2 linked regions of the Homo sapiens genome follow. The protein of the gene in region 1 purifies or fractionates together with the protein of each later gene. This does not show direct contact. Each region holds a gene or a part of one and is shown on either strand. Other genes may lie near its edges.

The links. Proteins that work in one complex are often made in the same cells at the same time.
Region 2: the proteins of F9 (region 1) and PIP4P2 purify together in Homo sapiens (affinity purification with mass spectrometry; 2 studies listed by BioGRID and IntAct, with this or other methods). This does not show direct contact.

The regions. Positions count from the first base shown.
Region 1 is NC_000023.11:139,547,586-139,551,338, reverse strand, and holds part of F9 (coagulation factor IX isoform 1 preproprotein), read right to left. Parts: intron 2,977-3,753; coding exon 2,848-2,976; intron 278-2,847; coding exon 75-277; intron 1-74. UniProt on the Homo sapiens protein: Factor IX is a vitamin K-dependent plasma protein that participates in the intrinsic pathway of blood coagulation by converting factor X to its active form in the presence of Ca(2+) ions, phospholipids, and factor VIIIa.
Region 2 is NC_000008.11:91,020,258-91,024,010, forward strand, and holds part of PIP4P2 (type 2 phosphatidylinositol 4,5-bisphosphate 4-phosphatase), read right to left. Parts: intron 1,148-3,753; coding exon 999-1,147; intron 7-998; coding exon 1-6. UniProt on the Homo sapiens protein: Catalyzes the hydrolysis of phosphatidylinositol-4,5-bisphosphate (PtdIns-4,5-P2) to phosphatidylinositol-4-phosphate (PtdIns-4-P).

The DNA of each region.
Region 1 (3,753 bases):
TAGCCTCAGTCTCCCACCTGGCCTGTGTCTTGCCAGCTGAGCTCCAGTTTTGACACACCATCAGTATAAAGTACCTGCCAAGGGAATTGACCTGGTTTGGCATCTTCTCCACCAACAACCCGAGTGAAGTCATTAAATGATTGGGTGCTTTGAGTGATGTTATCCAAAATGGTTTCAGCTTCAGTAGAATTTACATAGTCCACATCAGGAAAAACAGTCTCAGCACGGGTGAGCTTAGAAGTTTGTGAAACAGAAACTCTTCCACATGGAAATGGCACTAGAAAAATAGAAGAAAAATTAGTAACCTGATATTTCTCATTGGCAAATGGAACATGTATTACAAAAATTGAGATTGAGGCCCATCCTTGTCACTTCTGAGAAGCAGGCCCATCAGTATTTAAAAAAATCTAATCAGTGAATAGAGTCTCAAGCTAAAAGGTTGATTGCGTTATTTTCATGGACAGTTTTCAAATCCTTCATGAAAAGAACATTTGGCTCCGGAATTCATCATCTTTACGGAAATAGAATAGGTGTTCCAGAATCAAATTTGGTAAGACTTTTACAGAGTCTAATGACTTTGTGTTTAGTTTCTTTACTAAAAAGTCTTACTCCCAATTGCCATCCCTGAATGGAAGTCTTATGATTGATGCTTTGTAACTTTAACTTTCCAATTTGGTAAATGGGACTTCTGCTGCTTATGATTAAGAAGGTTTCTTTTGCAGACTAAAAGGCCTTCTAGATTCCAAGGTGCATTTTATATATTTTCTGGGGAGAGATCATTGTGATTCAATTATTTGGGCTTCAAATATTAGCCAAAGAGATTGCTAATATAATTATCACAGCCATATTCACCAGGACCTGCCCACCATTTTTCCTTGGGTTGGTTTATTTTCTAAAGAAAAATAATGTATTGATACACTGGGGACTACCAGAATGGGAATTTGTAGTCAAACAAAGTCACTTCACATTTCATTTTCATTTATCACTTTCCTTCAAGCCACATTCCTTGTAACAGACATTTCTATAGCAACCAGCTGCGACAAAGTATCATGAAGACAGCAAGTGGTTGAGAAAACAGGAAATTAGTTCAAAATACTTATGTATAAGTGTACACAATCAACAATGGCTACAGAAAAGGGACCTTTATCATTGAAAAGGCAGAAAAGCTTATTTTAAGTTTGGCCTACTTATTCTGCTAAAGCTAAGGCTATATTCAAATATAACACTTAATAGTTGGAGGTGGTTCTCAATTCTGTTTCTCTTTTATAGCATAGAAGAACTTGTAAGGGTTTAGCTAGTATGCCATCTGTCTATACTGGAAGTTAGGTTTTTAAGGTTAAAATACACAGACACACACCCACACACATATTCATGCTCCTCTCAAGGTAGACTAGCTTTGAGACAGTGTATGTGAAGAACCAGGCAGAAGAACAAGTGGGCAGGCCCTGAAGCCTTAGAGATTCTTCATTTTATTTGCAGGATATATATTCCTAGCTTCTGGTTTGTTGGGAACAGGCCTCCAAATCTGGCCATAAACTGGCCCCAAAACTGGCCATAAACAAAATCTCTGCAGCACTGTGATATGCTCGTGATGGCCTTGATATCCACACTGGAAGGTTGTGGGTTTACCAGAATGAGGGCAAGGAACACCTGGCCCACCCAGGGCGGAAAACTGCTTAAAGGTGTTCTTAAACCACAGACAATTGCATAAGTGATTTGTGCCTTAAGGACATGTTCCTGCTGCAGATAACTAGCCAGACTCATCCCTTTATTTCCCATAAGGAATACTTTCAGTAAATCTTATGACTGGCTTGCTGTCAATAAATATGTGGGTAAATCTCTGTTCGGGGCTCTCAGCTCTGAAGGCTGTGAGACCCCTGATTTCCCACTCCATACTCTATATTTCTGTGTGTGTGTCTTTAATTCCTCTAGTGCCGCAGGATTAGGGTCTCCCTGACCAAGCTGATCTCGGCACTGGTTCTTTCTTTAATTTCTTCTGCCTGGTATAGTGCTGAGACAGGTACTGAAACAGTTACAGAGAAATGGTGCACAATTTAATGTACCAATTAATAAGATATCAGGCTTTAGAAATGCAAAAGAAATTATATCTAGTTTGCTTCAAAAAAGCCCCTCATTTATCAAATATAATTGACCCTGCAGAGCCTAAATTTTTCAAAAAATAAAAGTGTCTACTGCTTTCATCTTTAGATAACAGCCATACGAACATGGAGTGGAGATGTTCTGAATACACTAATCAGCTGTTAAAATGGTGGCATGGTTGGCATGACTGGGAAACATTGTTTTGTTCACAGCCATATAGATTGTGCTGATCAGCCTAGCAGAACATAAAACAGTTCATTGCCGGAATCATTCTGACACCAAGTGTGTAAACTCAGCTTAAGACCCAACAATAAAAAATAACTTTCTCAGAGTAAACTAGCCAGCCCAGATAGAATCATGCTTCAAACTTACCGTCCTTATACTAGAAGCCTATCACTCAATTATTTGTGTATATTTTATGATATAGTATTACTACATTGATTTGACTTGATGAATTACAAATACATATGCAGAAATCACACAAATTAATTGCTTTGTGATATAAATGTTAGAGAAAAAAATTGGACAAATTGGACACAGAAAGAATTCAGGTTGTAGATGATTACATAGTTTATATTTAAAATATGATGCAATCTAGAAAATTAATTGGTCTAATTCAAGCTACTGATATTTTCTATGATTTCAAAAGGAAGCAGATTCAAGTAGGAATTAAAATTATGTAGGTTTGTTAAAATGCTGAAGTTTCAGATACAGATTTTCTTTAAAAAATCTTATTCAGATTATGACCTGCTGGTTCACAGGACTTCTGGTTTTCTGCAAGTCGATATCCCTCAGTACAGGAGCAAACCACCTTGTTATCAGCACTATTTTTACAAAACTGCTCGCATCTGCCATTCTTAATGTTACATGTTACATCTAAAAGAAGCAAAATAGACAGTAACAGCATCATTTAACATGCATTTCTAAAAAGTACATGGAACTACTGACTCATGTATGGGTCAAATATACATTGGGGGCATTCATGTTGCCCCCAATATACGTTGGGGAGAGAAATTTTGGAGCCTTGAAATAAGAGTGGAAAGAAAGGTAAAATAAACTTCTCAATAATGCATAAAAATGATGGTAGCACTATAATTGATTGGTTTAAAACTAAATGTTTGGATATTCTACTTTCACTAAATTATGAACTACAGGTTTAAAAACCCTATTTATTAATGTATAACATATATTCAAAAAATACACACAATTTTAGTGTAAGTTTTCACAAAGTAAATGAGCCTGTTTAAACACTAAACTGACCAATACATAGCACATTATCAATACCCCAGAAGATGCCCCCTCCCAATCATTCCACCCTTTTTCCTTTTTATAGGTTACCATTACCTGGACTTCTAACACAGTAAACAGTTCTTGCCAGTTCTTGAATTATAAACAGAAGTTCGCAATATGTACTCGTCTGTGTCTTTCATTTAACATTTTGTCTGTGAGATTAAACCATGTTGTTTTGTACAGCAGTAGTTCATTTACATTGCTGTGTAGTATTCCACTGTATTACTATTACAGCTTTTATTTATTCATTCTACTGTTAATGGATATTTGGTTTGTTTCCAGTTTTTGGCTCTTATGTATAATAGTGTAATGAACATTCTTGTATATATCTTTTGGTGACATAAACATGCCTTTTTACTGGCT
Region 2 (3,753 bases), on another chromosome or scaffold:
GATTGGCTGGATAAGGGAAGAAAATGCAAACACAGCAATTAACCAAAGTACAGATTGTCAAAGTTTGTTTGTGTTTAAAAAGGAAAGGATTCCATTAAAACTAATGAAATATATTGCTTTTGTAACTTAAGGTTTTATTTTATGATTTTTCTATAAAACATATGAAGTCAAGTATTCATGTTTTGTGGTCCTTCAAGACACAATAATCACTGGCTGACTTTTTTTAGTCTTTTCTAAAGAGAAAAAAATAAAACATCAAAGATAAAATTAATATTTAATTGCAGATTTTGAGAGATCAAAATGTAATATATAAAGCCTAACTATGAAAGAAATATATTTCATCTAAACCAGTGTATGCTTTACCAGTTTATTACTTGAAGCTATAAAAATACTGCTGAAAATTTAGTTGCTCCCCAAAGCTCAATTTTTAAAAAAGGAAAGGTGTTATTCAATATTTTAAACATTCCTAAATTACTATCAACTAAATTGAATAAAATGTCAAACTATTTGTAAACACTTTGGCACAGATGCTAATAATAAATGCATAATCACAAAAGCCCAGAAAAACAATAGTGACATCCTACAGACATAAAATAACTTCAAATAATTTTCCACATAAATAGGGCAAAGTTTACATCTGTAATGAAGTTTAGTACACAATATTTTCATTTTAATGAAAACAAGAATGAATGTAGTTGTGATGTGGATAGATATTGAAAGTATTTATACGTAACTGCCATGCTCAGTCTAGTTTTTGAAAGTAAAAAGCCAAAAGGCATTATATTTAAATTCACCATGAAATTCTCTTAATGGGGTTAGCTTTAAACACAGTGAGGTATCCTATGATGAAAGAGAGACAGAAGAAAAGACAGGAAAAAAGATTACCATATTTGTATCCAGCCCACATATACTTTTAAGTAACATTATTGAAGTACTTCCTTTAGGAATAAAATGTCAAATAACAATTTATATTTTTTCTAATGGAAATCTCCACTTACCGTAGCTTCATTGCAAACTGTGCACTTAACCACATGCTGGTGAAGCTTGCCATCCAAATTGATTAGTGATTGGCACACACGGCAGTTTATTACTGGAATACCACTGGCGTCTGGACTGGCAATGGCTGTATATGGAGGTGGGAGCTCCGCTGAAAAGATATTAGTCACTGAATCAGAGTCTTGGAGAAATTACTATGGCTGGTTTGAGTATAGAGGCAATATAAGTAAAGAAGAAACAATCAAGATTTTCCCACGTTCTTTTATTTATTTTTCAAAGCTAGCCAATTTATCTTACTTTTAGAGCACAAACATCCATGAGACTCTTATCAAGTAAAATAATTCTTAACTCTGATAAAATCTAAATCATGTTTGCCTAGGTCTATCCCAATAACCCAGTTTCCTTTTACTAATCTATACTCAAAATGTCACTCCATTCCTATTAGTAAATTCATACAGTCTCTAACAGGAGAGTGGTAATTTATGCCTACAATAAAAATTTTACACAAGTGATCTGATTCCCAGGAAATAAAAATGGTCGATGAAAGCAAAGTTTTAAAATTGCTTATCCATACATATAAATTATGTAGCTGTCATGCTCTGTCTTTATATTGGAACCAGTATAATGACTGCTGGCTATGACAAGAATAAAACAAGGTGTTGGAGGAAGTCAAGAAGAAACAAAAATGAACCTAAGAAAACTAAACTTCTCAGCATGGAACAAAAATGGGAACCATGCTAATTTCAGACACAAAACAAAAATAAAGTAAATATAACAATTTTTAGTCTCAAAATTTACCTACCATTAAAAATGTAAGAAATGCACCAAAGTGTTTATGAGTAAAAAAATGTAGTATGTGGGATTAAAAACTTCAAAAACCATAACAACAACCACCACAAAAAGAATGGGGAACCAGATGAAACAAGTAGCAAAATGTTGATAACTGATGAATATAATGACATGGAAGGTCATAGTTTCACACTACTTTTGTGTATGTTTGAAAATTCCCATAATACAAAGACACACACACAGTGTTTTTTTTGAGAGTCCTAAGGTTGACTCAGTGAGTGAGTGAAGGGTGGAGGCCCACTTTCAAAATCAAGTATCTACCAGAAGTGTATATTTGTTACAAAAGTCTGAGAAAAGGAATCCTGATATACTACTCTGGAATGGGATTTCTAAAGGAGACTGCCTAACCCCTTTCTGTAACTATCTCAACTACAGGAATAGAAGACTTTTCCAAGGTAAAGTTTTGTCTTGGGACATTTAGAAAGGGCCACACTCTAACATATGATTGAAGCACGAAAGAGAACTGGTATCTCAAGAGGCTTCTGTAACACTATAAAATATAATCACAATAGCTAAGCATAATAAGAGCTATTTTTGAAATAAAGGTTTTCTATCCACTGTATTAGGTCCTAAACTTTGTGATATTTTAAAAAGAATTAGAGCATAAAACATTTTGGTATGTTTAAAATACACATATTTCTACCTGATCCTTGGGTTATAATATAGGATTTTTTTCAGACTGCTAAGGATTAGCAACAAGTGGTATTCGTTCAAATGATTCATAAGACAAATTTCTGCAGCAGCCAAGGCTCTGAAAGAGGCCACTTTGAAATGACGATATGCTTATGTTTCTGGGAGGCTTATAACAGAACACTGCCAAACACTGAAATTCAAAAGAAGCTGTACATGTCTTAAATTATAAAAATAATTTTAAATCCATGAAAAGAATTTGAGCGTGATCCAGAGTGACCTGTAATGTATTAATCAAGAAGAAAAAAACATGTTAAAGAAACAATGAGTCAACAATATACTTAAGGTCTTGCAATTTGCAGATTACTTTGTCAGATCTCAATAAAGACATTATTCTTGGGGAAAGAATATGTACCTCACTAGAAATTCAAGACACACTGCCTGGTATATGATAATGAATATTATTTTAATAATTATTTGCAGTAGCATTATTAACAAAAGTTGCTTCCTCTCTGGCCTTTTCCTTGAGTTGTACAGTAACATTACATAGTTCTCTCGTAATCCCAGGTCTCTATCTTACACAGTATGATAGAAAGGAAACTTAAATGCAAGACAGTTTTATAAAGAAAACAAGGGCATTAGGGGGAGAGGAGGAAGTGACATATTGCTACACTACATAAAAGGACACCAACCCATACACTCCTCAGCTTTGCTCAAAGAAATCTCCTAAGAAAATTTCAGAGGGTGATCTTAACAATCATTAAAAGGGCATTAGAGCCAGTAAAACCCTGTGAATTTTTCTTCTAAGATTTGTACTATATAATTTTTAATCTGCCAAAAAAAAAACGCCTTCAATGACAGAAATATGCTCAAATCTACTCTTTTGGAGGCTTGGGAAGTGGAGGGACATGGACAGAACAAGCAGTGAAGATTATAAATCTAATATAAGAGAGACCATAAGCTCCACGAGGCCAGGGGCACATCTGGTTTGTCCACAGCTACTTCACCAGCGCTTGTCATAATGCCTGGTCTATGATGATGCTTACTAAATGTTTATTCAATGGTTGAATTAATTAATAAATCAGCGAGTCACTAAAATTTATTAGACATATCTATTTGTCTTGGAAAAATAACACCAAGTATTAGGTTGCTGCAAAAGTAACTGCGGTTTTTGCTACGACTTTCAAATAGCAAAAACCGCAATTACTTTTGCACCAACCTAATACATTAACCCTACTCTCCTTGCAGAGGAGCTAAGGTTCTAGCAGGGGAGTGCAG